Homo sapiens: one gene and its partners. The protein of the gene in region 3 binds, or shares a complex with, the protein of the main gene of each other region. Each region holds a gene or a part of one and is shown on either strand. Other genes may lie near its edges. The genes, in order: DCP1A, DAB2IP, ARHGEF6 and PAK1.

Region 1 (7,997 bases), on a different chromosome or scaffold from region 3:
CTAACAAAAAAGTTGCAATTTGCAAACCAATCTTAAAGATAATGAATTTTTGAATAAGTCAAAAATAAAAAATACGCCATCATGAATAATCCAAGCTTTCTAAAGAACTCTCAAATAAGACACTGTACATAATCCAGAACTTCTGTGGGTTGGGAAAGAGGACAGAACCAGTCATAAAAGACAACCACTCATGTAGTAATGAAAGAACAGAGGGATCGACCTCTCAATAACATTATTTTACAGAGCCAGTCTATGTATTGTCTTTTCCCCAAATATATATCTTTCTTTTTCTTTCTAATATGGGGGTAGGAAGAGAGACGCAGGCATCCATTTTAGACTCAATCATTATTATTTTGAAATTGCTTTGCTAGGCTGGTAATATAAATTCTAGTTCAGTTTATTCTGAATCACAGAAAGGCTCAGAGAAAAGAAAGAACCTGGTTAAGATTTCACAGCTAGGGAAAGATGAAAACTTGAAGGGTACTAGCAGGACGGTTCCAAAGACAAATGTACAAGAGAATTGAACCGTTTCACATTGTTCACCACTAGACTGTTAAAAACAAATATACATATTTTAAAAACTTACCTTCGATATACGAATAAGGTCCCTTCTATATCAGTCTTCTCCTATGAAAGACAATGACTCAATTAGTTTTTTTTCCCCATAATCAGACCCCAAATAGTCCCCATGGAGAAGTAATGCTTCACGTTTAAGATCAACTTGTTTCATTTCATCTATTATAAAATTAACCACTTTTGAACAGGTAAAGTCTCCCTCTCATTCCACAAATTGTGGTTACCATTTCTAATGTATCCTTTCAGTGCATAAGCATATGCAATATTTAATCCAGCAACATATCTGTATCTGCAGTATTTTTCTTTTTTAATTAGTAAAGGAGAAAATCATAGAATAAACCTTCACTTTTTATAGCTAAAATATTTTAGCCAGATTTCTTAACTTTAAAGCTAAGGTCCTGTATACTGCAATTTCTTCTCTTTTAAGTTTATCCAAGTTAATTTTAAAAAAGGAAAGGAATGAAACTTTCTTATAGGATACTTTGTTTCATCACTAGGGAGTTTTCGTACATTTTGACAACTAGCAAATTTTGTGGTTAAGAATTACTACCAAACAAAATCAGCTTGTTATTTTTAGAACTTGAAGAATCTTGAATACTGAAAGTATACCCTGCCTCAGTGTAATTATTGGAGGCCTTTACCATAGTTCATTTTCTGTGACAAGAGTGTATTTAGGTTTTAAACACAGTTCAGTGTTTTTTAAAAAATAAATAAGCTTATTAGTCTGCAATTTACAGCCTACAATGGACCTAAATATTTTACTGTAATCAACGCATTATTAACATTTTAAATGTTAGTCATATATTGAATGTGTTGGGATTAAAAAATTTAGAAAATTGATCATCTCGATTTCTTCCAGAAGTACTACCCTAGCTTAAATATCATTATTTTCCTTCCTAAGGATTCAGAGGCTTTTTCTTACCTTTAAAATGTTAGGTTATTACTATAAGAAACTGGTAATCAACTGTCTTACAGTAAAAGAAAATTTGCCCACCAAAAAACATCATGCAAAGTTACAACTCACTGTAAAATAATAAAGAGGGAAAAGATTTTTGTCATGCTCTATGTGCCAGGATCCAAATAAACAGTAGCAGCTTATTTTTCAATTCAGGTTATTATAGCTTGTATTTCATATTTAAAACAGAACTCCACAATGTAAAATTTTAAAATATTGAAAGCCTTTGTGAAAAACTAGGAAAACTCTAGCCCCAAGTCTTCACCATTTGTCGGCAATCCATATTTCAAAATTTATATATAGGCCAAGAAAAGAAAAAAGATTCATAAAATTTCAAACTAAGGCAATGTCTAAAATAGCTACATTTAAAAAACAATCTACAATTTTATTCCTTGTGGCTTCCCATATCTCCTTCTCTTCCAGGAGGCAAAGATAAACAACGTGATTATAAAAACTCTTCATCTGAATTAACTGTTCATAAATGCCAAATGATTTTCGATAAATTACTGATAAATATAATCTATGCAACTGTATTATAGGGTAAACGACATACTACGGTCATCTTCCAGAGTTCTGTCAGTTTAAGGATTTCGTATCTTATTGAAATGTGAACTCCAGTCATTGGTGAATTCAATCCAACAAGCATTTACGTATTACTTTCTAAGTGTAAAGCCTGTAGCTGAATGAGTTAATTAGGAAGGGTCAATTACAAGAAAGTGGGAAATTATGCTTTTTAAACAACTAACAAAGCTTCAAGCAGGGGCTAACAAGAATCAGTGAACACACTGAATGTGACTTTTCGGACCCTCCCCAGTGCACGAAAGCCAGAAAGTACTGAGTCCGAGGGGAGCATTCAGAGATGACATCACCAGCATCATAGATGGAACAAAACACATTTACAGGGTCTCTCTTGTTTGTACAAAGGTCTTCGGGGATCCAGTGAACACGGAAGCCCTTTTCCTAAGTGCCTTGGAATCTTTTCCGAAACTCTGTGTAGTTCGATTAAAGCCGGACCCACCCACCCCCTCCTTCCAAGAATCGAAACTAATTGGATTTTAAACTTTAAACCCAAATGACCTCTGCGACAGGGGCTCTCATTTACGTTTGCCAGGGGGAGAGGAGGAGTGTTTATTTTATAGATAATGTACATATAATTTATCTAATAATCCGCAAAGCCTCAAACACAAGCTTTCAGGCACCCTTTTGACCCCACCGGTCTTATAACTCCCAATGTATCTGCAAAGAAGGCAGGTCGCCCACGTCCCCAGACCCGACGCCAAGGGACTGATCCTGCTCCAATCCTCCCCTCCACTGGCTTTTCCTTGGGATGTCTCGAGCCACTTCTCTCACTCCTATCCCCCAATCCCAAGCGGACCCGACACCCCTCAGGCTCTGGCTAGGCTCTTGGCCAGACCCTGGCCTCGTCTCCACCGCCCTGGCCTCTTAGTGTGCCCCCCCACCCCACAGTAACCCGCGCGGCCCCTTTAAGAGACGGCAGCGGCCGGGTGGCCGTCCTCAGGGCCAGGCGGCACTCACCCACTGGTTGGCCTTGGGGCAGAAGGTGTACAGAGCGACCTGGCCCGTGAGGTCTGCGATGCTGGTGATATAGGGGTCGTGTTGCTTCAGGGCCGCTAGGCTCATCTCCTGCCCAGCTCGACTCAGCGCCTCCATCTTGAATCCCAGAGCCTAGCCCCTCTGGTGGGGGCGGAGTCGCGGACAGGAAAGTGCCATCGAGGCAAAATTCCCCCATCTGCGTCAGTCCCCTCAACTTCCGCCTCTACGCGGGCCTCGCGGCAGGGCGGTACGTCAGCCATTCTGGTCCGCCGCGCGCACGCTCCGGGCGCCGGGTTCCGGCGTTGTCAGGGTCCGCGGCCCTACGATGTGGGCGGTGTCCAAGGCTGCGTAGTGGAGCTTGCAGGCTGGAGCTCCGGCGCTTCCTTTCCCTGAGCTAAAACGACTGGGTCCTGGGATCTGGCCTCTAGCTCGCCTGCCGAGCTCTTTCCAGGCAAAGGTTGGAGACCGCCGAAGTGCCGGCCTCGCGGTGCGCTGTCTGGCAGGGCCCGGGGCCACAGAAGGAAAACATGTCTGTGGAATGTGGAAATGCGGGACTCTACCGGGCCCGTTTAGAGAGCACAGAAAAACATGGGGGAAAGGGAGAGGCGAGAAGCCCAGAAAATTACCCTAGGTCTCAGATATGGATGTGTCGACCTAAAAGGAAGAAGACTCTGGGGCAAAATAAATGCAAGCAGAGAGTTTATTTGGGCCAAGCTTGAGGATTGCACCCCAGGAGCATAGATTCAAGTTGCCTTGAATATATACACTGATTAGCAGAAGGTACAAGTGGATTTTTTTTCTTTTTTTTTGAGACGGAGTTTCACTCTTGTCGCCCAGGCTGAAGTGCAGTGGCGCGATCTCGACTCACTGCAACCTCCGCCTCCAAGGTTCAAGCGATTCTCCTGTCTCAGCGTCCCCAGTAGCTGGGATTACATGGGCGCGCCACCATGCCCTGATAATTTTTGTGTTTATAGTAGAGACGGGGTTTCGCCATGTTGGCCAGGCTAGTCTCGAACTCCTGACCTCAGGCGATCCACCCGCCTCTGCCTCCCAAAGTGCTGAGATTACAGGCTTGAGCCACCGCGCCCGGCCCTTTTCTTTTTTTCTTTTTGAAACGGAGTCTCGCTCTTTTGCCCAGGCAGGAGTGCCGTGGCACAATCTCAAGCTCACTGCAACCTCTGCCTCCAGGGTTCAAGCGATTCTCCTGCCTCAGCCTCCCAATTAGGTGGGATTACAGGCGCCCGCCACCACACCTGGCTAATTTTTTCTTTTTCTTTTTCTTTTTTTTGAAATGGAGTTTCGCTCTGTCGCCCAGACTGGAGTGCCGTGGCGCGATCTCAGCTCACTGCAACTTCTGCCTCCTGGGTTCAAGCGATTCTCCTGCGTCAGCCTCCAGAGTAGCCGGGATTACGGGCGCCCGCCACCACGCCCAGCTAATTTTTGTATTTTTTTTAGTAGTGACGAGGTTTCACCACATTGGCCAGGCTGGTTTTGAACTCCTGACCTCAGGTGATCTGCCCTCCTTGGCCTCCCAAAGTGCTGGGATTACAGGCGTGAGCCACTGCGTCTGACCCACATAAATATTTTTGTCCAGCCCTGGGAAGAGTCCATGAAGGGTTTAATTTGTCTTGCTTCATTTAAAGCATTAAGCAGATCACTCATTTCATTGGTAAGTGTCTGTTGAGCATTTTAAAGCGTTTGAAAGAGTTAGGCACTAGCTAACAAGTAAAACAAATCATGGAGACTATAGGGAGTTCTATCCCCGCCAGACTTCTTAAAAAGCAACATTTCTTTCGTTAAAAAGGTCATGGAGGCTGGGCGTGGTGGCTCATGCCTGTAATCCCAGCACTTTGGGAGGCTAAGGTGGGAAGACCGCCTGAGGTCAGGAGTTTGAGACCAGCCTGGACAATATGGTGAAACCCCGTCTCTACTAAAAATACAAAAATTAGCCGGGCGTGGTGGCGCACGCCTATAGTCCCAGCTGCTTGGGAGGCTGAGACAGGAGAATCACTTGAACCCGGGAGGCGGAGGTTGCAGTGAGCCAAGGTGGTGCCATTGCACTCCAGCCTGGGCGACAGAGCAAGACTCAAAAAAAAAAAAAAAAAAAGGGTATGGTAGCTAGATGTGTGGGCTCACGCCTGTAATCCTAACACTCTGGAAGGCCGAGGAAGGTGGACCACTTGAGGTCAGGAGTTGGAGACCAGCCTGGCCAACATGGTGAAACCCCATCTATACTAAAAATACAAAAATTAGCTGGGCGTGGTGGCACATGCCTGTAATCTCAGCTACTCAAGAGGCTGAGGCATGAGAATAGCTTGAACCCAGGAGACGGAGGTTGCAGTGACACAAGATTGCACCACTACACTCCAGAGCTTGGGCAACAGAGGGAGAAATTCCATCCAAAAAAAAAAAGGGGGGGGCATGGTGGCATGTAACTGTAGTCCCAGCTATTTGGTAGGCTGAGGTGGGGATCACTTGAGGTCAGGAGTTCAAGACCAGCCTGAGCAACATAGCAAGACTACGTCTGGAAAGAAAAAAAAATTGACATCCCCAACAGAATTGAAAATTTTTGTAAGATAAAACCATATTTTCAAGAAAATAACACTAAATATTTGTATTGCCTATGATTTTATATCCCAGGACCACTGTTTTTTGTCATTGTGTTGATGAGAAGAGTCAAACTCTGTAAAATAGTTGAAGAAATTTATTCTGATCCAACTATGAGTGACCATAGCCCTTGACATAGCTCTCAGGAGATCCTGAGAACATGTGCCCAAGGTGATTGGGGCACAGCTTGGTTTTATACATTTTTGGGAGAGATGAGACATCAAATACATTTCAGGTGTATATTGGTTCTGTCCAGAAAGGTGAAACAACTTGAATTGTGTGCCAGCACACCTGGCTAATTAAAACTTTTTTTTTTTTTTTTTTTTTTTTTTTTTAGAAATGGGGTCTGGCTCTATTGCCCAGGCTGGTCTCAAACTCCTGGCCTCAACCAATCCTCTGGCCTGGGTCTCCCAAAGTGTCCCTGATAAAATGAGTTTTTTCCCCACTGTGTATCAGTCACAAACAAAGAATATCCCATTGAAAAAGGCAATCAGGTTTTATTCATTTGCCAGGGAATGGAGAAGGTGAGCTCTTCCTCTGAAAGCATCTTTTCTTGAAGAATAAAAGGCAAGGGGTTTATTGCCTTTATTCCTATGGGGCAGGAAAGGAATGTTAGTATGTGCAGGGTGGGACTCCAGACACGCAGGCCCAATTCATAAACATGCATCTTCATATATCATATGTACACAAAATGGCAGAGATTTTCTTTTAGGGAAGGGAAATTAGCATTATAATGATATGTTCATGATCTAAAGGCACCCAGGGTTTGCCAGTTCCCATTTGCGCTGGTTTTATGGTGTCTTATCTTCCTCTGGCATCTGGTCAGGGGTCAAGAAGCTCTGGCGCCATCTGGTTTCTTTAAGCAGCAGTGTCTATAGATAAAGGGACCAAAGAAAAACAATAAGAAAAAGGAACTTTCCCAGTTATTTTGTCAGGGCTGTCCTGGTTAACAAAAATGCTGAGATTACAGGCTTGAGCCACCGTGCCCAGCCCCCCTGTTTGTTAATGTAAAGAGAAATTTAGATTCTTTGCAGAATCATGTAAACATGTACAAATGTGGACAAAGACACAGATATCATTCATTCACTCTTAAGTCAGTATTTATTGAACTCCTAATTGTGAGCTGGTGGCCCCTTGGGAGCATCTCACTCTGTTTAAGACATTCCTGGCTCTGAGGGAAAAAAGAAAGTAGGACAGTGCAAGGAAACAGGGATGATGCTAGAGACATTTCTCTTTGAAATCCAGAGGACAGAGCCGCTAACTTAACTGGCTGGGAAAGTCTAGGAGGGCTTCCTGAAGGAGATGATGTTCAAATTGGTGTTCTAGGGATGACTGGGAGTTCAGGGGAAAAAAGTAAGGCCTCTGGTTCATTTCACAGCTCAGTGGTGAGGTAGAGAAGATGTCGTCACCCTCATTTGACAGATGATTTAATTGAGACCTGTGGGGAGAATTCACTGGCTCAAAATTCCACACTAGTCACAGAGGATCCAGTATTAGAATCTAGGGACTCCTATCTTCTACCCTGGGATCCTTTCCTACACGCCCCAGATGCCTTTCTTCCTTCCAGTGGCTGGAGGTAAGAGCCCTATTCCTCTCTACTTACCTTCAATCTGTTTTAAAAATCCGCACCCTAATTTTTAAAAATCTGCACTTTAATGTTTAAAAAACATACATTCATCTGGTACAAAATTCAAAAGGCACACCTGAAACTTAGTTTTTTTTCTTACATAGATTTCCTAAAATAATCGAAGACATTTCATTTTAATTTACTATTTTTGATTGAGCAGGGCTAGCCTATTAAAGAACACCAAGTTATTTTAGGGAATTTTCATATTTGGAATAGAAAATTACTCTGGGCCGGGTGCGGTGGCTCATGCCTATAATCCCAGAACTTTGGGAGGCTGAGGTGCGCGGATCACAAAGTCAGGAGATTGAGACCATCCTGGCTAACACAGTGAAACCCCGTCTCTACTAAAAATACAAAAAATTAGCCAGGCATGGTGGCGGGCGCTTGTAGTCCCAGCTACTCGGGAGGCTAAGGCAGGAGAATGGCGTGAACCCGGGAGGTGGAGCTTGCAGCAAGCTGAGATCGTGCCACTACACTCCAGCCTGGGCGACAGTGAGACTCTGTCTCAAAACAAACAAACAAACAAACAAAAAAAGAAAATCACTCCGAAATACATATTTGCCTGCCTCTAAACATGCTCTGATGCCCCATATAGCTCTTAGGACATATTAAAGATAATATGAATATTTTGGACTTGAAATTCATCTTCATTTATCGTGAGGCCTAATTTTGCCTTAT
Region 2 (7,878 bases), on a different chromosome or scaffold from region 3:
AGGGCGACATGATGGCTGGGCAGAGGAAGCGCAGGAAGAGGGAGGCGCTGATGAGCCGCTCACTGATGTCCGGGCGGCCGCGACTGCTGCACTCCTGCCTCCACGAGGCAAACACCTCTTTCAACTCCCGTGGGAAGACACTGTGTAGGGACAGACAAAGGTGGGCTTGGCTGTCAGGCAGGGGCCCAGGACAGGAGTGCACAGAGCAGGAACCTGCATTCCAACCTTGGCTCTACCCCGCCAGCTGCGTGAGGTCAGCCCCGCTGTCTGAGCTCTGAGGACACAGCCATCTGGGGAGAGCAGTCAATACAGGGTGGCTGGAGCAAGTGCCCAGGCAGGAGGAGGAGCAGGGAGACCCAGGCTCCCATCGGGCAGTGGGTTCTCAGTGAAGGGCCGGGCAGGTGGGATGGGAGGAGGCATGAGGAGCTGGCTCTCCGTCCTAACCGGAATTAACTGCCAAGGGCCAGTGCTGAACCACCTCTCCAGCTTCTGGTCTGGGCCCTCCCCACCTCTCTGCCAGTGTCTACTTCATTTTTCAACCCAAACAGCAGGCATCTGGGTCTAGGGGGAAGTGAGGAAAACAGGAATAGACCACTATTCCTTGGGTTCCCATCACTGGCTTTGAGACTAATTTCCTTTGCTTGAATAATGTCACAGGAATCCAGGATTTCCTAAAAGCTCAGAAAGATCAAGAAGATGGGACTACCCCTGAACACGGTGGGACAACACAGCTCTCCATTCTCTACATGGGGAGGGAAAGGGAGGTAGTGACTGCCCCAGGGTGATGGAGCAAGCCGGCAGAGCTGGCCCTAGACAATGGGGCTCCTGGTTCCACTGGGCATCCTGGCCTGCCATGGTCAGGCCCACCTGGCCAACCCTTAAGTGGGTTTCCTATCTTTTTTCCCTAAAAGATGCATCTCCCAGCCTGGGGCAGGCCAGGCCCCAGTGGTCCGTGAACTCAGTCTACACTTGGCTCTGCCATGAGCTCAGGGTGATCTGACCAAGGCCCTAGCCCTCCTGGAAGGCTTGGGTTTTCTCTCCCCTAAACTGAGAGCAAGGCCTGCCCTGCCAAGCTCACAGAGCCATCGTAAGGCTAAAACCCCAAGGCTACAACAGGCTTGACCAACTTGAAATTTCTTCCCCCACAGGCCCAGCAGCCTGCTCAGCAGGCTCTCCTGCAATGCATGCTGGCTGACCCATCAAGGGCACACCTAGCGGGGAATGAAGGTGAGCCACCTTTAGCCGTGGCTCTCACAGTGCCTGGCACAGAACTGGACAGGGGGCAGGTGTTGAGTGGTGACATCTATCAATGGCCTTGTCCAGAATGGAGAGGTGCCTCTGATAAATGCCAGAAAGAGGAAATGGAAAATCACTGTCCACAAATATGTTTTCCCTGAGTCACATGCCCAGCCCCCCTGGAAGAGGGGGAGGGGGAAAGCACAGCCCAGCTGGGAATGGGAAGTGTGTTCCCAGAGTTCAAGGCCCTACAGTCGCTCTCCTCCACCGGCCCAGGGGTGTGGAAAGCTGCACATTTGTGGCCCATCTTGAGGTGCCCATTTGGCCCAGGCAAGCACCTTGTATAGCCCAGGGGCTAAGGCCCTGGGTGCCAACCCTCCTGGCCTGCCCATTCCCCCTGCCTTTTCTTGTCCTTGGGGAGCAGCAAACACTTCTCTGGCCTTCCTGTGTGCCCAGTCCTGAGGTGGTGGGCTCACCTGCCCCCAGGGTGCCCCAGCATTCACAGGAAATGTTTTAGGCACAGGCACAACCCTATCCTGATGGGATCAGGGCTGCGACAGAGGGTACCAGGTGTGGCCTCGGAGCAGGAAGGGCAGGAGTGTATGCAGGGGAAGGTGCAGGTGAGTGAAAGAGATGAACCTAACAAGGAGTGAGGTAAGGCCGGGGAGAGAGTGGTGTCAGAACAGGCTGTGGACGGAGGCTTGGGTGGGTGGGGGCTGTAAGCCCTGAGCTGGAGGGGGACACAGGTTAAACCTGGGCAGCTCCTCTGGGGTGAATATGAACCCACTGCTTGGGCTGACAGCAAGGCCCTCCCGCACAGTCCTGTGTGCCACCACAGAACGAGGCTATACTCGGCACCAGGCTGGCTGGCCATCACACACATATATCCCAGGAGCAAGCTGGTGGCCGTGAAGTCGGCCTTACCGCAAGTTTCTCCGGGACTGATTCCGGTCCTGCTGAGGGGCCTGTCTAAGCAGCCCACTGCTGCATGCCCTGCTGCTTTCTGGGGCTGGCAGAGTCTGCAGACCCCGTTCTACTTCAAAGTCTAGTCCTTTCTGTTTATTCTCTAGTCCCAGCAAGAGGCCTGCCTGGTGCTCAGGCCCCCAACGTGCCCCTGCTTGGCCCCATCACAAGGCTGTGACATGAGCACCTTAGCTCCCACGGACAGGTGAGGAGCCTCAGGTGAAGCCATCCGCCCACCCCAAGTGGGGGCCCACACAGGGCCTGCCAGTCTCACTCCCGCTGCAGCCCAAGCACCCACAATAGCCCCCGGCACATGAAGGGCGCTCCCTCATCACCAGAGACGGCAGACTGGCGTGTCCAGGTTCTTTCCATCACAAAACCACAGCAACATGCTGAACGCTGCCCCACCTGAGAGCTCAAAAGGGACTAGGCCAGGGGACTGGCAAGTCAGTACAACTCAGGGGCCAGGCAGCATCAGGCACACTGCGGGTGCCAGACACTGAAGGACAGGATGGGGAAGGCGACAGGGTGGGGAGACCTGGGCACCGCACTGACCAGTAGGAGTTGATGATCTTGCAGAAGGCCAGCTCGCAGCACATCTTGAGGTTGCCCTGGTGCTCTGGGAGGTCAGCGGCCGAGCACTTGCTGGGATCCACTTCGCAGTTCTCATCTGACTCATACAGCGCTTTGATGAACTCACCTATGGACAAGTGGGCAGGGAGTGGGGAGTGAGGACCTGGCGGGCCCTGCCCCACCCTCTGCCCTGCTGCTGGCCCACTCCCTACCTAGGGCGTCCTGCAGGTACTTCTGGCCCACTAGCTTGAGGTACTCCTCAATGGCCTTGGTGGCCAGTGTGTTCTCCCGGAAGATGAGGTGCTCGTTGTCCCCGCAGCGGTCCACCTCTGACATCATCAGGTCTGTCAGGAAGTCCTGGGGAGGCAGGAGGTGGAGAGAGCAGGACCTGAGCTGGCCTGGCATGGAGGGCCCTAGGATTCCAGACCTAGCCAGAGAAGTCCTGGCATTTTGAGGCTGTTCCATCACCAAGCTGCGGGGGTCCCGGAGAGGAACAGTGTGCCCACCTTTGGGGGCTGCTGGGGAGTGTGGGCAGGGCAGGGGCCCCCAGCCAGGGTAGGAGCCTAGAACTGGTGACAGTAGAGCCGGGTCTATGGATGGAGGCAGCCTGAATGAGAGCATGCCACGTGGAGCCACAAGCCCCCACCACCACAGAGAATGGACTCATTTCCATGTACAGCCCTGATCAGGCCTGGCCTGGTGACCACAGCAGGACTCGCCTCTCCCCGCACCATCAGTGCCAAAGAGGACAAATGAGGCTGCCCTGTCTCATGGTAAGAATGGCCATCAGTATCCACCTATGACTCTGGTGGGGGCTCCCACACCAGACACAGATGCCTTCTGTGCAGCCCCACTGCCCGGGGAGGTCGTGAGCCACCATGCTCAGGCAGGTGAGAGCAGGAAGTGATGTGCAACTGGCTGGAGAGGGAAGGTGGAGGCGCCACTGCCCACCTGGCAATCCAGGGTAGCAGCCCCAGGCCCATCAGGTCCCACACACAGTGTTGTGGGAAAACCCCAGCACAGGAGCCCGAACCCACACCTTCCCCCTACTCTAGCAACCATGCAGATACTAACACCCTCCCTCAGAAGCCCCCACCTCCTTGTGCTCACAACTAACCTGTGGCTTGGGGGAGGGGAAGAAAATAGGAAAAACTGTCATAGTTTCAAGGGAGGGTGACAGTCAGGGCAGGGGGCCACCTAGCACAGAGCCTGCAAGGTGCCCAGGAGGGGTGGACCCAGGCATCTGTGCTCAAGAAATTCCTCACTCCGACATGCACGACCTTGGGGTCCTTTAAAACAGAACTGAGATCTAGACACAGGAACCCAGGGTGCACAGCAGAGGCACAGAGGGACAGCAGGGGCAAAGGGGAAGCTGTCATTGGCTTCCTGGGGATCATGTGGCCTGAGGACCCCTTCCTGACCAGCAGGCGACCTCCAGGGTCTCATTCTCTGAATACACTAAAGCGGGGGTCAGAGGTGCATCTCCCCCGGGGCTCCTCCAGGGCTCCCGCTCAGGACTGCAGCCTTCCTGAACTCCCGCAATGAGAGCCAGGCCCCAGTGCTGGGATGAGAACTTCCTGAGAGCCAGGACCCAATAAGGGGGAAACCAATGCACACACAGCAGGAAAATGACTTGTCCAAGGCCACACAGCCACCTGGGGCCAGATCTGGTCCAAGTCCCTTGCTTCCCAGACTCCGTTACTCCTCTAGCCGTGGAGACGGAAGAGGGGCTAGTTCCCAAGTATTCCAGGGGTGGGGGCTTAGGTACCTGTCACCCCAGCAGCACAAGTTACTTTCTATGCTTCTATCTACTGCTCCCCAATCCCACTGAGGGCCTTTGGGGTTGGCTGCAGCCCTGACTTCACCTCCCTCCACGAGCACCTGGACATACCTATCATTTCAGGCTGCTTCAGGGAGGAATCCGCTTCCCAGGCCAGCCCCAGCCCAGCCCTGGGAACCAGGTACTGAAACATCAGACACAACTGCAGAAAATAATGCAGCCTCTGCAGCCCCCATCACTCCCTCTCTGGTGCCCATGGGTCCTTGATTCATTCCGTTTCCCAGCATACGTCCCCAGTGTTGACCAGCATGTTAAGGACGGGGCAGCCAGAGCTGGCCCAACGTGCAGCCTAGCCAGCCAAGTCTGAAGGCTGGGGGAGAAGGTGAGGGAGGAGGTAGCTGAGCACTACAGAGGAAAACTGCTCCCCATCGCGGGTCCATGGGGAGGAGGTCCCCGCCCCAGCCCTGCACTTGCAGCATACAGCAAGTGCAAGAGGGAGGGGGGCTGCAGAGGCTGCTGAGGCTTCCAGCCATGGCCTCCCCTTCCAGGGCCTCTAGGAACAGGTGAGAGGGTGAGGGACCTCCACGAGTCTTGTGCCCTGGACTCTGCCCTGGGGTATGGCTCCCAACTGTGCCTCCCCGACCCAGAGCTAAGGGCCTAGGACCTTGACACAGGGTGCCCCTCAGCCACCTGCCACTTGGCTCACAACACGCCACTGTCCAGAGGGCAGAGGCCCAGTCCTTAGCCCAGCACCAGGGTCCATCCACGCTGCAGAGGCCTCAAGTCCAGCCCCTTTTTCCCACCCTCTTTGGCCAGCTTCCTGAATGGCAGGTGGCAAATGTAAAGAGAGAAGGTCGCCTTCGAGGCCCACAGACCATGCTCTACTGCCTTCCTAGGGGCACCCTGGTCCAGGAGCCCATTTGTCCCCAAACCGGGTAGGTGGGGCTGAGGCACGGCTTGCATGGTGGGCTGCTGGGCCCATCTTCGGGAGCGGAAGGTGAAAGGGGTCATGGAGATGGACATTGAGCACCTCTGGCCCTGAACTAGGACTTGCCTGGGTGGGTCTCAGACGATTCCCGCTTCTGTGAGGCTCTGGGGTGGGGCTGGCTAACCCTCGAATAGTACAATTTTGACTGTGTCTACCTGTGTGACAATCTGTGTGTCTGGGTGAGAGTGTGGGGTGAGGTAGAGCTGTGAGGGAGGCTCATCTGTGCATCGTGCTGGGGAGGTCTGCCGAACTCCATACCCCACAGGGGACGTGTGTTTGGCTCACTGCGGCTGGTGGCGTTGTGGGACCTGTGTGCTGGGAGAGCCGTGGCCACCCAGCCTGTTCCCCTGGCGCCTCAGGGGGTCGGTCCTCTGCAGCAGTGGTGGAAGGCACCTCAACCCAAGCCCACTCCCTCACTACCAGCTGCAATCCCATCCACTGGCTCCACACAGGCCTCAGTGATCAGCTCCAGCCACAGAGCAGGAGTACAAAACCCCCAGCCCACGATAGAACTTTTGGGTTTAGGGAGCCCTTCTGGTAGTGACCGGTGCCTCCAAGGCCTCTGTTAGGCCTGAAATGTACGGATGTGAGGAAGGGCAGGTAACCCAGTGCTGCCGCCCAGCCTGTGTCAGGAGCCGAGGGGCCTGCACGCACCTTCACCTTGCCCGTGCTCTGCAGGATGTGCACCAGGGCAGATGCCATCTCCTCCTTGGTCTTGGCACTGAGGATGGGCTCGAGGGCTGCACACAGCCCCAGGTAGTGGTTGGTGATGTGCTCAGCGAACTCTTTGTACATCTCCATGGGCAGGATGGTGATGGTTTGGTAGCGCGCCTTGATGCGGATCATGGGTCCAGGGCCCTTGCCGCCCTTGGGGTTGGGCGTCACCACCGGGTACCACTTCTCCACGAACTGCCGCCCGGCCACCGAGGCAGCAGGTAGGCTCACCAGGCCCAGGTAACTGTTGCGCTCCTTCTTCTTCTTCTTGTCGGTCTCCCGGTACAGGTGGACAGTGACCGTGCGCAGAGGCGGCAAGTTGTGGAACTCGAAGTGCTCGCCCCAGAAAACATTGTCCGTCTTGAGCTTGCCCGTGGTGCGGGCATAGAGCACATCGTCCAGGCACAGCTCGCACAGGTACTTCTTCTTGGCTGGCAGGTCCTTGGCCTCGATCACCCACAGCTTCAGGATGTGCTCCACACGCCGGCTGTTGTCCTGTATGTGCACGGGGGTCCAGGGTGGTCAGCTGGGGGTGCCACGTGCAACCCCCAACCAGCCCAGAGCCTGAGAGAGTCCTCAGACCCAGGAGGAGCTCTGAAGGTGGAGGCGGCAGCGGGCGCCTAGGCCCTAAGTCAGGATGAGGCAGGGCATGATGGACAAGGGCTGGATCTCTGGTCGACCTCACAGAAGCTCACTCACCTTGGGCAAGCAACTTAACTGGAGCCTTGGGTTGCTTGTCTATGAAACGGCACTAAGGTAAAACCCCCATCTCATAGAGGGCGAGACTGAGAGAGGCCAGCACAACGCCTGACACGTCACAGGCTATGCCATTATTAACTCTTCCTTAATATGCTGGTCTGTACTGTAACTTAAGAGATGGCTATGGTGACCAGGACTTGGTCAAGCCCTCAAGTCGGCTAGGGAGACAGATACAGAAGCAGGGATTACAGTGGGGGCTCCCAGGACCTAATGGGGGAGCCCAGGGGCAGTGGGAACACAGAGGGCACCAGCCTGGGACAGGGGTCCTCACCTGGAGGAGGGGCAGACATCTAAGGTGGAAGGGGAAGATGAGCAGAACTCAGCCAGGGGCTGGGGAGTAGGGACAAGGGGTCCCAGCAGAAGGACCCCAGGGTCCAGCACTCATTTCCCCAAGCCCAGCCTCAATGTGTAGCTTAGAAAACAGAGGCACACAGCACCTGTCTCAACCTGGTCAACTCAAACGTCTCTTTCAGAGTCCACCAATATTGTCCACTCGGGCCCTGCCTCCATGCAGGCTGACCACCCCCAATCCCAGCCCACACCACAGAGATAGTCTCTCTTGTTTCCTCCTATCTGAGCCTACCTTCAATCCCCCATGCTTTGGTGAGAGGGGCGCAGGCTTACCTTGTTGGGATGCACCGCTCGCCGGAGGTTCTCCATCCACTTATCCCGCTCAGCTGCAGACCGGCAGGAAAAGCACTTGCTTCCTGATGACGTCGTCACCTGTGGGGAGCAGGCAAGACAGTGTTATGAGGGAAGGGACCACAGCAAGGGCAGGCAGTGATGGAAGAAGACCTTGGAGGCTCAGGGGACTCTGGCCATCAGGTCTGCATCACAGCTTCAGGAAGGAGCCAGGACAAGGCTC
Region 3 (7,878 bases):
GGGTCTGCAGCTGGGAAGTGCAGCCAGATATTCTGGCTTAAAAAGACACGTCTTCACCCTTGCTCCCTACCCAACCTTTTACATGTGGAAGATGTCTGGCACTGTGCTTGTCACACAGCAGATCATTTAGCATCGTGGTGACCTTCTATCCTCTATCCCTCTCTAACCAGAAGCCCTGTTTCTCTAGAACTGACTGCCCTCGGCTCTTACTGCATTCAGCCAGTCATTCAGTCAGTTTGCTTTCCACTTATATTCGTCCCTTGGTATCTGCAGGGGATTGGCTCCAGGACCCCCAGAGATAACAAAATCTGACGATGCTCAAGTCCCTGATGTAAAATGGTGGAGCATTTGCTTATCACCTCCATATATCTTCCCATATACTTTAAATCATCTCTAGATTGCTTATCATACCTCATAAATGTAAATGCTGTGTAAATAGTTGTTATACTGCATTGGGTTTTAAATTTGTATTGTTTTTTGTTTTTTCTGAACATTTTCAATGCACGGTTGGTTGAATCCACAGATGTGAAACATGTGGATATGGGGGGCCACCTGTATTAAGCACCTACAAAGTGCTAGGCCCTGGAGAAGGCAGAGACACATCTTACCTCAAGAAAGGGGAGGTGGTCAAGTGAAGGCAGTGAGTGTGCACACCTCTGAAGGAACTTGGCCTAGAAGAGAGGAAGCCAGTGGCTCAGGGAGACCCAAGATTAAGCACTTGAGCTCTGAGAGGGAGGATCCAGAGTGAGGGAGGTGCAGGAGAGCTGTTTGGTTGGGCCCCCATGCCTGTTCTGTCACCTCTTCTGTCCCAGAGCCTGGAGACATTCTGGGCAGAGGACACCTACATCTTTGCTGATGATGTGATAATCTCCAAACCTCACTCCACCCTTGATGAAAATGGTCTTAGGAGACATACCTACCTTACCCTATAAGACTGTAAAGAGAACAAATGGGGGTGATGATGCTTCTGAGGCCCTTTAAGCACATTGTGTTTCAGTGCAGTGCTACTGTCAACCTTTTACTACAATGACAAAACACTGTAGCATAGGATGTAGTGTGTCCTTCCTTGGAGATTTGCAGGGAAGAGTGATCACTGGTCAGCTCTTTGCTCTGGAGGAGGCAAAACAGGAAAGAATGGAGGTCTTGGTTGTGGACAGGTATTACAGGGGCTCTTTTGCATTATTTTTCTGAATACAAAATGCTTCCCACCTCGGGAAGATTGAATCAGTGTATTTGGCCATTTAGAATTTCTCATGTCAGGAAAATTTAGTCAGCAAATGATGGGTGACTGTCCTCTGGGTGTAATGTAGCAACATGCTATGAACAAAGACCCTTCTGTAACAATAGTGGAAAAGAACTAACACCCACTATTTCTACTCTTCACTAGTAACTCTCCCTCCTCCCCCATCTTGCAACCCTTGTTTGTAGGTACTCGAAAAGATTCCATTCCACAAGTCCTACTCCCTGAGGAAGAGAAACTCATCATTGAAGAAACCAGAAGCAACGGCCAGACCATCATGGAAGAAAAGTGAGTAGAGCAGGCAAAACCTTGCCTAGTTTCTCTTGGGGCTGGCAAGAAGGTCTGGTAGGACGGGGAGCTCCTGGAGAGTCTATGATGAGGGACAACTCCTCCTTACCTGGGAATGCGGCCTGCTTTGCTGTGCATGCATTTGGGAGACTTTAGAGGGCTGCCCACTAACAAATGGAAAGAGGAAGGAAAAGCAGCGGTGACAGAGCCCTCCAAGGCAGCTCCAGCTGGCAGCTGCCCCTGCAGCCAGCTCCCCATCCAGTAAGCTGCTTCTGAGCACATGGGAATATCAATGCCCTGGATGGGTTTAGGAAGTGGCTGGGAATTCCAGCCACAGAACCAATTTCCTTGCCCGGAGAGATGCCACTCACATGTTTTGAGTCAGAAGCTGTGCTTTCACATTTTTGACATCATTTAAAATCCTACAGCAATCCGGTTAGATAAACATTACTCTCACCACTTTCACAGATAAAGAAACTGAGGTACAGGAAGTTCAGGGAAATTATGTCTCTGACTTACCTTTACACAGTAGTGTGGGTGACCTAATGGGGGAAAATCAGGTTAAGTACCTTCTGGCTCATAAAATTAACACAAAGTAGCCAAATAATTCATTTGTCTAAACTTGAGTCATTTCTGAAGTCAGGCCTAAATTTGCATAGGACAGCATATTTCAAGGTGCTTGGCATTGTCAATGCATTTTACATCTGATGTGTGAAGTGATACAGCAAAATGGTTAAGTACTTGGGCTCAAGCAAAAAACAGTGTGGTTCAACTCCCACTTCTGCTACTCATTAGCTGTGTGACCTGGGGCAAGTTGCTTCACCTCTCTGTGCCTCAGTTTCCTCATCTGTAAAATAAGGATGACGGTAATGCTTTCAGAGTTGTTGTGAGGTTAAGTGAAATAAGTATAAAGGCTAGCTCAATAAATAATGTTAGTTAATTCTTATTATAACGATATTCATTTTTACAACTTTGTGAGGTTTTCAGAAAATGTGCTATTATCCCCATTTTACATGTAAAGAAACTAAGACCAAGAGAGGATGAGAAGGAAACTGGTTCCCAGAGAACAGAGGACTAGTAAGTGGCAGGATCAGAACCAAAACTTAGATCTCCAAAATCTTTGTCCAGGGAGAGACCCAGAGAGGAAAAGGCTGTTCTGCAACCCAGTAATTACCAAAAAATTACTTTTTTGGGTACTGTATGGTTGAGATATTCCAGAAAGAATGCCTCTGACTTTGTGTCATGTGCAGTCAGAGAACTGGGAAGGGCAATGTCATAGCACAGATACTGTAGACTAGGCAATCTTGTGATACCTCTCATTATATGATAGGTGATGTTCATTCCTGCCCCAAAGCTAGAGAAATCAAAACCTTATGACGGGAATTGAAAACGTCGAACTCCTAAAAACAGAGAGCAGAATGGTAGTTTCTAGGGACTGAGGGGAAAGGGGAAATGGGGAGATGTTGGTCAAAGGGTACCAAATCTCAGGTATGCAGGATGAATAAGTTCTGGAGAACTAATGTACAGCATGTTGACTACAGTTGGCCCTCTGCATGCGTGGGCTCTGCATCTGTGGATTCAACCAACCCCAGATCAAAAAGATATTCAGAAAAAAATGGATGGTTGCATCTGTATTGAACATGTACAGATTTTTTTCATACCTAGTAAAGTTTTTCTTTTTCCGCCTTTGTTGAGGGATAATTGACAAAGGTGTACAATGTGATGTCTTGATATATGTATGCACTGTTATACCATATTGTTTTTTCCTAAGAAATATGGTATAACAAATATTTGCATAGCATTTACATTGTATTAGGTATGATAAGTAATCTAGATATGATTTAAAGTGTATGGGAAGATGTGCATTGGTTATATGCAAATACTATGCCATTTTATGTTAAGGACTTGAGCATCTGTGGATTTTGGTATCCATGGGGGTCCTTGAACCAATACCCCATGGATACCGAGGGAGGGAAGACTGCATAGTTTACAATGGAGTATACTTGAAGTTTGCTAAGAGTGTAGATTTCCACCACACACATACAAAAGGTAACTATGTGAGGAGATGGATATGTTAATTAGCTTGATTATGGTAACCACTTCACAATGTATACATATATCAAGACATCACATTGTACAGCTTTGTCAATTATCCCTCAACAAAGCTAGAAAAAGAAAAACTTAGTGACGGGCCCTAGTCTCTTGTGTTTTGTTCACCCAAGCTGGGAAGTGAGTAGAAAAGGAGGAGGGAAGTATAGAAAAGGTGTAATGACATTGCATTTAGCTAAGCATGTGTGGTGGTGGTTGTTCTTCCATCAAAGTCAAGAAGATGGAAACCATTTAGAGCAGTACCATTCCCAATCAGCTAGAAAGTCCACTGTTTTTCAGGATCTGTATTTTTATAAAGTGGCTTTTATTGTTAAGTATTTTAACAGTACCTCAGTGCAAGCCATTTGTCTCTGAATTTTATCTTTATTTTCTAGGAGCCTTGTTGATACTGTTTACGCCTTGAAGGACGAGGTCAGAGAACTGAAGCAGGTAATAAAATATAAAATCATTTTCTCGGGTAATAGAACCATTCTCTTTTTCTTGCCTCACGCTGCTCATGCTTTCAGGGAAGGCCTAGGAGCAAGGTAGCGAGGGGGGATTTTTGTTTTCCTTGTGTCATCAAGGTAGGTTTTGTTGATTTTATCATGTAAGCCTTGAATTTAAATTTCCGAGGCTTGCTTGTATTTCTATGTAGTAGTTCACAATAGAGTCCCAAAGTTAGTTACAACTTTCCTGTTCTCTGACATCCATAAACAGACTTTAAGAAAAGACTAGTCATTCATGAGTGTGTAAGTGTAAAGAGAACCATTCATCATGGTTTGTGGGCTTTTCTGCCGATGTGGCCTAGTGCTCCGTGATGCACACTGTGCCTTGTGTGTGAGGACTGACTGTATCTGGTGACAGAGTGAAGGATGGATGCGAGGGGAGAGAGACCAGGGACTAGAAGACCACTTAGGAGGTTCTTACAAAACTCAGGGTGAAACCTGTCAGAGTCCTGAACTGAGGCAGGGTAATGAGGCTGGGGAGGAGGAAACGAATGTAAAGGATGGCATACTGCAGAGTTTGAACCTATGGACGAGGATAATATGATTTTGAGATTAAGAAAGAGCCAGGGATTAAAGATGAAGCTTCTTCCCAGGGTGTCTGGTTGCATATGGTGGTGCCCCTTCATGGAGATCAGTAATCACAGGAGGAGGAGAAGTTTGGGGTGTTGAGAGAGATACTGAGTTCACTTTAGGACCTGATGAGTTTAAGGTGCTTGTGACATATCTAGGTGGAAATACCAAGCTGCTGCCAGGTAATCTCAGGTAAGTGAGAGGATCACTTAAGCCCGGGAGTTTGAGGCTGCAGTGAGCCATGATTACACTGCACTCCAGCCTGGCAATAGAGTGAGACCCCATCTCTTAAATAAAATAATAATAATAATAATAATAATAAGAAGAAGAAGAAGAAGAAGAAATACCAGGCTGACAGTTGAGATTGTGGACCCGATTCTCAGGAGACAAGGTCAGTACCAGAGATATTTGGGAGTCCCCTTAATAGACACTTGGGTTGAAACAGAAGTGACACTAAGTGAAAAGCAAGTTAAATTAGAAGAGGATCAGGGCAGGGAAGAAGAATCCAAAAGGTTTCCCAGAGACAGGCAGGAGAATCGACAGGCTGCTTTGTCATAGATGCTGAGGGAGGGAAGGTCGAGGAAAGAAAGAGAGTCAGTGATGAAAGCTGCCCCGAGGATGAGCAGGAGGAGCCCTTGGAAGGGCCCCCCTCTGTTTGATAATCAACAAATCTTTCCCCATCATAGGAAAATAAAAGAATGAAGCAATGCCTGGAAGAAGAACTGAAATCAAGAAGGGACCTAGAAAAGCTGGTGCGGAGGCTTTTGAAGCAAACAGATGAGTGTATTCGAGGCGAGTCCAGTAGCAAGACCTCAATTCTTCCATAACCATCACTGTGCCACTGGGTGGAGTGTGCCTTCAGGGCATCTTGAAATGTCCCGCTGAATGATTTGACTCAGTTTGCTCACTTCTTTGGCTTTTGTTTTGTGTTTGAGTCTCTCTCTCTCTCTCCCTCTCTCTTCTCTTTCTCTCCCCGCTGTGTGCATATGTGTGTGCGTGCACGTGCGCGCTTGGGCATTTGCTGTTGTTTGGTTATTGGTTGGTTGTTCATTTTTTTTTTCAACAGGTGAAAAAGCAGGAAGTGGTGGTAGAGATGGCCTCAGAGTCTTTTCCATTCAGTAAGAAAGAGAAAGGGAATGCAGGCCAGTTACTTAAAAGGTCTTCAGATTGCCTTCAGTTCACAGTGCCTCTGCAACAGCCATTGCCCTCAGGTCACATTCTTTGGGCTGGCTGCCCTTGCAAAGCAGCTGGCCAAGGCTTATTAAATGTGAACCCAACTTTTCCCCAGGGCTTTCCTGTACCTGCAAGCCTCTTAGTACTTAATTTACCGAAGGCAAATCTTCCAGACTATGGCTTGAGTAGGATGAAAGACAAACACATCTGCCCAATGATCCAGCTGCCCTTCCTTAGACCATCACATGCCTCCCCTCAATCACAGGTTTTAAAATTACTGCCCTATGTTGTCTATAAGACCAAGAAAACTGTAGTACCCTTATTCCTTTTGTGTCATGTAAATTGTAACTCAGGGGGGCAGAAGCTCTGGTCACCCACACCAACACCAAATCCATCAGCAAATTCTACTGGACAATCCTCCCTTTTAGTAGCAGAGTTGACCGCCTTTTCCCATTGCATGATAGGTTTCTTTCCCTCATTCTGCCTAGTGTGTAAGTTTTCTATTTCCCCAGTACTTTTAGCCAACCTTACCAAGTGGTGTGTAAACTAGTATGTATGTGCTTTGCTTACTTTTTAAAAAAATGTAGTTAGACTGTGAGGAGTTACTTTATGTACGTTGCATATTCAAACTGTGATGTTTTATCCTTCAAAACAATCTGCATTAAGAAGATATTGTGCCCTACTAGACAGCTTTCATTCACTTTATTACTCTCTCATATATGCTGTGAGAAGTTGTAATATTAATTGGCCTCTTTGGGTGGGACTCTAAGCAGTATTTGCAGAAATATGCTTCTGGTCCAACTTGTACATCCAGAACAAAAGGGCCCCTCTAGTAGCTGTGTGCTGGATTATTCAGGACTGATTAACTCAAGTTGCTCATTGAATCACATCATCCACTTTATCCCAGAAACTAGAACTGTGAGAAACCAGGTTTAGAAGACAGTCACAGAACAGCACACATCCAAATTCAGCGCCATTGAAAGTTGGCCTAAGGCTCAGTGCCACTCACCCCTCCCTCCCCAAAAGACAAGAGAAATTTGGCCAGATGGGGAAGGTCACTGGAAATTGAGGCCAAAGGGCTGATCAGAATTGCCTTTATAATATATTTGATGGATGCCTATAAATGTGGGTTTTGCAAATATTGTTTAAAAACCAAACTTGAAGCCAGGCATGGTGGCCCACACCTGTGGTCCCAGCTACTCAGGAGGCTGAGGTGGGAGGATCATTTGAGCCCAGGAGGTCAAGGCTGCAGTGAGCTGTGATGACACCACTGCACTCCAACCTAGGTAACAGAGAGACACCTCTGTCTCTGAAAAAACAAAACTTGAAGTTTGAAACCCCCAGCTTGCTGAGGAGCCCTTTTTATTTTTGGTACTGAGAGTCTCAAGGTCCCATAGCTACATGGTACAGGGCTGTTGTCTGCTTGCTGCACAGCAGAAATTACACCATCCACAGGAAATGGACTATTTTTGCAGTCCAACATCAGCCAACCACACACAGCCGTGTTTGGAAGCTGAAGAGTAAAGAAATTTCTAGGAATGGCTGTTGTTCTGTTTTTTAGCACAGCCATTTAGATATAACATCCTTCACTTAAAAATTAAAAACATCAGTACTACCACCACCACCAACAACATCAACACAGATCTTCACATCTGCCCATTCTGTGGTTAGTCAATGGCTTGCAATAAATGTGCAAACTGCATCTATAGGAAACATTTTTGTGATTACGGAATACTTTAGTTGATTGCTGAAAATATTGAAAGGTCTTCATTTTACAGTGATGAGTACATATGCATGTTTCGGGGACTTGGCCCTTCTGATGAGGGGCCCTCGGTACTCTGGATAACGAAGCTTGTGCAGAGTGGTAACCATGCTTACACACTAAACTATAATATAAAGGAAATGAAGCCATGTTAATCTGAGAGCAGTGTCGCCATAGTTGTGTTGTTTACAATACTCTATAAATGGGTTCCTGTTGCCCTGTAATTAAACTGCTGCCCGTAGAGGCCTTTC
Region 4 (7,878 bases), on a different chromosome or scaffold from region 3:
TATTTTGAAATGCTTCAAAATAAGACAGGTTAATGAATGGATCAAGGGATACACAGACATGCGATAAAGAAAACACAGCAAAATACCACAGAATCTAAATAATGGGTATATGGGTGTTCACTGCACATACTCCCCTGCCAATGTTTTATTTAAAAAAAATTTTTAACGTACATAAAATTAAAGAAATATAGTATAAAATGAAACAGTTTCAAGAAGAGTCAGCCTACAGGAAAATTTTTATGAAAAATTCAGTCTTTGAGAGGGTCCACCTACCACAGATAGCCAGAGGCAGTCTCAAGACCACTTGGAAACTTGTATTAATCAATTTATTCTTCATCAATATTTATTTACTTGTTTGTTTTAGCTAACAATGAAATAGAGCATTCTACTCCCAAGATACTATGCTAAAAGTGCTTGTTCATCTCCTCATTCTAGCACTCTAGAGAGGAGAAGAGAGACTTTGGCAATTACTGTCTCCATCTATAAAATCAGACTTGATAATCCCCTCTCAGTCCCTTCGGATTAACTAGGATATTACACAGGGTAGCGTTTTGAAAGGTCTCTTCCTCCCACTCCAACTTCATCTCATACCATTTACTCTTGCTTCCTATACAACAGCCATAATTTTTTTTAGTTCCTCTATGTTGAGGTAAACCAGCATTATCCAACTGAAAGATACGGTTAGCCTTAAAGAAAAGCCACATATGTAATCTCAAATTTTCTAGTAGCCATATTTTAAAGTTTGTAAAGAGGTGAAATTAATTTTAAAATACATTTAACCCAATATATTCAAAATATTAACAATTCAACATATAACCAATATAAAAAGTTAATGAGTTATTTTACATTATTTTTTCAGTATTGTCTTCAAACTCTGGTATGTATTTTATTTACACTTACAGTGCATCTCTATGTGAATCAGTCAGTGTGCTCAACAGCCACACTGGCTAAGTAGCTACCATATTGAGCAGCACATCTCTAAACTTTTACCTACTCTCAGGGCCTTTGTGCATTTAAAATGTTCCCTCTGCCTGACATGCTTTTTCCCCCTCAGTGTTCTGCATGACTAAAATCTATTTATCATGCACATCTCAGTTTAAAAGCATCATTTCCTCAATGAGGTCTTTTCCTTATCACTCCAAAATTCTCTACATTAGTCCTTTATCTCTTTTGTAGGACTTATCAAAATCTGCAACTGTCCACTTGTATATCTACTTACTTTTCTCTGTATTACCCTCTGGAATGTAATCTTTGTAAGAGCAAGGACAAGGACCATGTCTGTATTATTTATGAGTGTATCCTTAGTACTAAGTACAATGCTTGGCACACAGGAAGAAATCAATAAATATGTGTAGTCTAATTAAGGAATAAATAGAAGCACTATAGAGCTGTACAGATGCTCCTTGACTTATGATTAGGTTACGACCTGATAAACCCAACTTACACTGAAATACTTTAAGTCAAAAATGCATTTAATACACCTAACATACCAAACATCGTAGCTCAGCCTACCCAACCTTAAACATACTCAGAACACTTACGTTCACCTACAGTTATGCAAAATCATCTAACACAGAGTCTATTTTTTAATAAAGTGATGAATATCTCATGTAATTTATTCAATACTGCACTGAAAGTGATTGGATGGGTATTCCAAGTATGGTTTCTACTGAATGCATATTGCTTTTACACCATCATAAAGTCGAAAAATCATTAAGTTGAACCCCTGTAAGTCAGGGACCAGCTGTATTGGATTGGTACATACATGAAAGAGTGTGTGTGTGTGTGTGTGTGTGTCTGTGTGTGTGTCTGTGTGTGTGTGAAGAATATACTCAGCAGCCATTCCTAACTGTCCTGGAACCTTTACCACATAGTCAACTAAGTCAATTATCCGGCAAGTGGCAATGGATAGTAAAAAAACGATTTTTTGAAAGAGTTAGAGGGAACTATAAATATATTTTACCATTCTCCTAGGAACCTACAATTTTTTAAAAAGTGCCACTGGTCAGGGCAGCACCCAAATGATCAGGAACAGGTGACCAGATTTGGAGACAGAAAATATGAATTAAAGATTCCAGTTTGTAACTTCCCAGCTACATAATCATGCCACTTAACTTCTGTTCATTTATAAAAATATGATGGCTAAAGAACAGAATTAAGTTAAATGAGACTCTATATAAAAGGGTTTTGAAAACAGTAAAGCACAAAAATTATATATATAATCCTATATATAATCTCTAGAAAGTCCAGGAAACTTGGACTTTTCAAGTCTATCACAATGGGCTTTCTCATTTTGCTCACCTGGTTCTTTATTTTTTTTTAAGTTACTTTACAAATTACATATGTAATTTATTAAATTAAGCAAAATCTATCCTGGATACCAAAAAAATCTCAGACTCTGGACTGGTGAGATAATTCCATATGAGAAAATAAGTGGGAGGGAATGTTATAAAATAGTAATTCTTGGCCGGGCAAAGTGGCTCATGCCTGTAATTCCAGCACGTTGGGAGGCTGAGGCGGGCAGTTCACTTGAGTCCAGCCTGGGCAACACGGCAAAACCCTGTCTCTACAAAAAATACAAAAATTAGCTGGGCTTAGTAGCATGCCCCTGTGGTCCCAGCTACTCGGAGACTAAAGTGAGACGATTGCTTGAGCCCGGGAGGGCAGCACTGCAGTGAGCTATGATGGAGCTACTGTACTCCAACCTGGATGACAGAGCAAGACCCTGTCTCAAAAAAATAAATAAATAAAATATTAATAGTAATTCTCTAACAGGTAATTGGAGAACCAAGAGCCCCTCCAACTATACCAAGTCCCTCTTTACCCATCCCCAAAACTGGCAATTTACATTTTGTTCCTGTAGCCCATTGGGAACTATTTCCATAGTGAAATACTGTTACTGATGGACTACATCCCAGTGTATCACAGAGAAAGGGTGAGGGCAGGGAGTAGGTGAGAAGGTTAAGAATCACTGTCGAAATATTCAAGCAAAGAAGTTGGCATCAAATTCAACACATTTATATGACAGCTAAGGAAAACTGAGTCTCAGGACGGTTAAGTGACTTGCTGTGGTTACACAGTAATAATTTTTAAAAATGTCTTCAAGGCCGGGCGAGGTGGCTCACGCCTGTAATCCCAGCACTTTGGGAGGCAGAAGCGGGCAGATCACAAGGTCAGGAGATTGAGACCATCCTGGCTAACACGGTGAAACCCTGTCTCTACTAAAAATACAAAAAATTAGCCGGGCATGGTGGCACGCACCTGTGGTCCCAGCTACTTGGGAGGCTGAGGCAGGGGAATGGCGTGAACCCGGGAGGCAGAGCTTGCGGTGAGCCGACATCGCATCACTGCACTCCAGCCTGGGCGACAGAGCAAGACTCCATCTCAAAAAAAAAAAAAAGTCTTCAAATGACAGCTTGATGTCTCTGCTCCTAAATTTCCTCATCTGTAAAATGAGTTAGCCAACATCAGTCTAGCACATTACAGCTTCCAAATTGTTGTGCATATATCCACAGAGCTTACCTGATTCCCTACCACACCGCAAAAGTCTAAGACGGCTATGGTGTAATAGAAAAAGCATGATGAACTAAACAATCATAAGAACCTGGCTTCAGATCTTAGCTGTGCTGTATAGCCTCAGCAAGTCAATTAACCTCTTTGTGTTTTCTTCTATCAAATGAATATAAAACAACACCTGTCCTAGCTAACCCAGGGGATTGTCCAAAGAATAAAGTCAGATAATATCAGTAAAAGTATTTTGTACATTATACAAAAGGCCCTTCATCATCTGGGCCCTGCCTCCTCTCTGCTCTCACGCCTCCCCACTTTACACCCTATCTTCTAAGCATACTAAACTACACAGGGCTCCCCAAACAGGCTCTCAAATCTTCTGCTCACATATTGCTCTCTCTTTCAAGAGGGTCCATCATCTCCCCTTTCTTCTCACCCCTCCCTGACTGTGCTTCGTTAACCCCTGATCATTTTTCAGAACCCATCTTAGATGTCACCTCCTTTAAGAATGCTTGCCAGGCCACCCCCATTTCAAGTGCAGCAGATGCCCTTCCTCTGTGTTCACATGGCACTTGCACTTATCTCCATATTTTTGTCATTTTTTGTCTCAATGTAGTGTAATTGTCTATGCACATGTCTGTTTCTCCCGGAAACTATAAACCCAAGGGTAGAGGCTATGATTCATCTGTTTATTCAGAACCTATGACAATGCCTGATGCATAATATGTATTTAGCAAATGAATGAACTTTAAATGGCAATAAAATATTACTTTTCATATAATACTTACATAAGACATTTATGCAAAACATTGTTAATATAAGGCAGTGCTTCTCAACTTTGCATATCAGAATCACCTATAAACCTTTCAAAATAGAGATGCCAAGGCAACTCTTTACATCTTCACAAGTAATTCAAGTGCATAGCCGAAATTAAAACCACTGCTACACACAATCATAGTCATAAAATTACAAACTACTCTACCTAACATCTATATAGCTCAGTATCTTACAATTCACTTTTACATATATTATTAATCTTCACAAGAATTCTGTAAGTTAGGTATTATTTCTTTCAAATGAACAAATAGAGATTTAAATAAGTGTCCAAGTAGCTCTTTGTCTAACTTCAAATTTTGTGCTCTTCCTTAAACCCTCCCTTGGTAAGTGCAGTAATACACAAATCAAGGGTTCCACCAGTGAGGAAGACATCAATCTTAGCTTTGTGGGAATCCAGGAGGAAATAAGGAAAGCTGGACCTTAAAGATATAGGCAGGCAGATGAGGGTGGAAGCCATGCATATACTGTCATTGTCATTTGCCATCCCAAAAGATTCAAAAGGCAGATTCTATAAATTAGAAAATGCTCTTGCCAGCCTCAGTTAGTACTTAACAGTCTGAAAGGGAAAGGGATATTGGAGAAGGCTGGAAGTAGAAAAGTAATAAAAGAAAGCAGCCCATAAACAAGAATGGATTTCCCAATCCTGCATGCAAATTACCTAACTCTGACTCCAGGAACAAAAGCCAAGACATAATGGACTTAAGAATTAGATGAATTCTACAGTCAATCAATACCACGAAAACTCATGAGGGATGAATGAACCTCTGGTTCTTTCTAGACTTACTACTACACTATTCCTCAAGAAGGGATAATCCGGAGAAGCCTAGCATATACATGACTTTCCCCATCTCAAAAACTAAAAGAATGGGAGAGAAGAGGAAGATATTCATGAAAGAAAAGGCTTACAAAAAGGGTAGAAAAATGTAGCACATTAAGTTAATAAATTTACGATGGCACAGGGAAATATTCAGGCACAAGTGATTCCAAATACTGGATAAAGCCTGATCTGGCAGCTTCAGTAAAGAGGTATTATCTTCTAAGTCTGCAACATCATGACCATCTGACATAGAGTTTTATCAGCAATTATCCTTTCTAGTTCAAACTGTGGACTTCAGTCAGGGTTTTCTTAGGGAGAAGAAGCTAAAGAGATTAGGAACCAATTTAAAAGAATGTGTCTAGTGCCCCAAAATTTAGTTTGATAGAGTTTAAAAGGCAATATGTTATAGTGGCAAAGTAAAGTACTACACTTAGAATTTTAAAATGTGGTTTAAAATCAATATTCAGGCATTCATTAATGATGTGCCTCTGAGCAAGCCAAGACTTCTATTAATATGATCCTCAGCCTGCTAACTCGTAAAATGGGAATACCTATCTCATAGGGCTGTTACGAAGATTGAACAAAATAACATCCAGGAAAGATGTTATTTTTCCTGTATGAATGATAAATGTAAACGAATGTAAATCTGTCTTCACCAAGCCTTCTAATACACACACAAAAAAAACATACCAAATGGAAACTTTAACTCTCACTGCAATATATTTACTTGCAAAACATTCCTATATCCTCTGTGCAGAAACATTAAAAGCAGCCTCTGTACTGAAAATAGCACATAGCTGCTGGAGTCAGGTGCACATGGACTAGAATTGTTGGTCTGCCACTTACTTGCAGCAAAACCTTAAATAAGCTCCCTTTACTAGTATGACTCTCAGGTTTCCTCACCTATGATACAGAGATACCAGCAATCATCTCATAAGGTTATTCTGAGGGTTAAAAAGAACATGTTAAACATCTCATATAGGGCCTGGTACAGAACAGGTATTCAGTAACATAAGCCATTTTTAGTAAGCTTACCACCACCTAACAACTAACAAGCAAATTATACTTTTCAAAGATTCCTTTATAGTCATTATTTTAATTGCTTCATGATCCTGTAAACTAGTCGTAGCAACTATTACTATCCCCATTTTACAGTTGGGACAAAACACAGAGATAAAAATTACTTCTACAAGGTCATGCAGTAACATAGACACTAAAGAAGGTCTCCTAACTTTTCCAGGGTTTCATTTTCACCCACTACAAATTACAACATTACCCCTTAGAAATTAAAACATCTGTGAAGAGACTTTTTTTTTTTTTTTAATAATGGGCATAGAAAATGACCCAGAAGGAGCAAACACTGGTGTGGGAGAATGTTTTTAAATTTTTTATTTTCAAGTTTGAATATACTGACTATTAATTTTGAATCAATGCATTTTTCCTTTTATTTTTAGTTGATATGTAATAATTGTACATATTTATGATATTTTGAGATGTATATAATTCGTAATAATCAAATCAGGATAATTAGCATATTCATCACTCCAAACATTTATCATTTCTTTATCATAAACAGTCAAAAGCCTCGTTTTTAGATGCATATTGTTTATCGCTTTTCAAAAATAAACAATAAACTGTAGTGAGATGTATTCTTTTGATAACCTTAAACTTGTCTCTTTACTATGCCAAAAAGAAATATTTTTCTCCCACTTTCTGGTTATTATTTAGAAAAATAACATGGAGAGGGATCAGAAAATTCATTAAAACCAGCAACAACAGAATTAATGTCTCAAATTGGCAACTGCTGATTCCACCTTGATTTTTGTTTTAGTTTTCCCCAACAAAGCCCATGACCTCTTAAAATTTTTTAAAAGTCTGCCTGTCAAAATGATGCTTGTTTGACAAATTATTCCTAAACTGAGGGAAACAAATAGAAAGGCAGCTTTCTCCCCCCCTTTATGATCATATACCACCTTTTTTCATCCCTCTATTTCATCTCTTCATTTCAGCACTTATCATGTCATATTATCTCTAGCTCCTTAAAGACTTGGGCTGCACTCTTGTATATAGCTGAACATCCTGCCCAGCACAGGGTCTGGCACATGGTGGAGAAGGACTCATAATTTTATAGTAAACGGATGAATAATTGAAGCCACTCTCCCAGAAGGAAGCTAGGAAAGGAGAAAACTGGGCATGGTATCTTAGGGCTAATAAGAAAGTGAAAGAAACAAAGCATTTTAAGAGCTTGACAAGGAAGAGAAACCTTTGTGTGGAGTCAAACAGGCCCTATATAGCTTTAAGTATCACCAGAGAAAGACAAAAACCACAGGAGACCAGGAAGAGACAGTTTTAAGTTAAAAGACTCAAAAGTTAAGAGTGCTTATTTAGACTTGCAAAACCAACTTGCAAATTCAAAAGAAACAATCCTGGCTTGGAATATTGCAACAGCAGTTTTCAGGTGGTGGTTAAAACAAACAAACGAACAAAAGACTAGGCTAAAAATTCTTGCAGGCTTTGGTTGGAGACACATAAAGGGAAAAGCTCAACCTAAAATGAATCCCCCAAAAATGTTAGGATCCCCTTGGATTTGCACATTGGACCATGATTCCTATTCATTCTGAGAACGGTTCTTGAGTAAAACCCCAATGTCGCAGCTGGCAATACATAGAATTAAATCATCTTACATTATTCATTCAACAAATACTTGAGTGCCT

The links.
Region 1: ARHGEF6 (region 3) and DCP1A share a complex: the UniProt entries of both Homo sapiens proteins name them as parts of the cytoplasmic complex.
Region 2: ARHGEF6 (region 3) and DAB2IP share a complex: the UniProt entries of both Homo sapiens proteins name them as parts of the cytoplasmic complex.
Region 4: ARHGEF6 (region 3) and PAK1 share a complex: the UniProt entries of both Homo sapiens proteins name them as parts of the cytoplasmic complex.

What each region holds. Positions count from the first base shown.
Region 1 is NC_000003.12:53,344,316-53,352,312, forward strand, and holds the start of DCP1A (mRNA-decapping enzyme 1A), read right to left. Parts: upstream 3,229-7,997; 5' UTR 3,203-3,228; coding exon 3,068-3,202; intron 628-3,067; coding exon 587-627; intron 1-586. UniProt on the Homo sapiens protein: Necessary for the degradation of mRNAs, both in normal mRNA turnover and in nonsense-mediated mRNA decay. Removes the 7-methyl guanine cap structure from mRNA molecules, yielding a 5'-phosphorylated mRNA fragment and 7m-GDP.
Region 2 is NC_000009.12:121,758,756-121,766,633, reverse strand, and holds part of DAB2IP (disabled homolog 2-interacting protein), read right to left. Parts: intron 7,737-7,878; coding exon 7,638-7,736; intron 6,750-7,637; coding exon 6,195-6,749; intron 3,130-6,194; coding exon 2,985-3,129; intron 2,900-2,984; coding exon 2,755-2,899; intron 141-2,754; coding exon 1-140. UniProt on the Homo sapiens protein: Functions as a scaffold protein implicated in the regulation of a large spectrum of both general and specialized signaling pathways.
Region 3 is NC_000023.11:136,665,670-136,673,547, reverse strand, and holds part of ARHGEF6 (rho guanine nucleotide exchange factor 6), read left to right. Parts: intron 1-1,428; coding exon 1,429-1,528; intron 1,529-4,011; coding exon 4,012-4,066; intron 4,067-5,378; coding exon 5,379-5,519; 3' UTR 5,520-7,878. UniProt on the Homo sapiens protein: Acts as a RAC1 guanine nucleotide exchange factor (GEF).
Region 4 is NC_000011.10:77,463,217-77,471,094, forward strand, and holds part of PAK1 (serine/threonine-protein kinase PAK 1), read right to left. Parts: intron 1-7,878. UniProt on the Homo sapiens protein: Protein kinase involved in intracellular signaling pathways downstream of integrins and receptor-type kinases that plays an important role in cytoskeleton dynamics, in cell adhesion, migration, proliferation, apoptosis, mitosis, and in vesicle-mediated transport processes.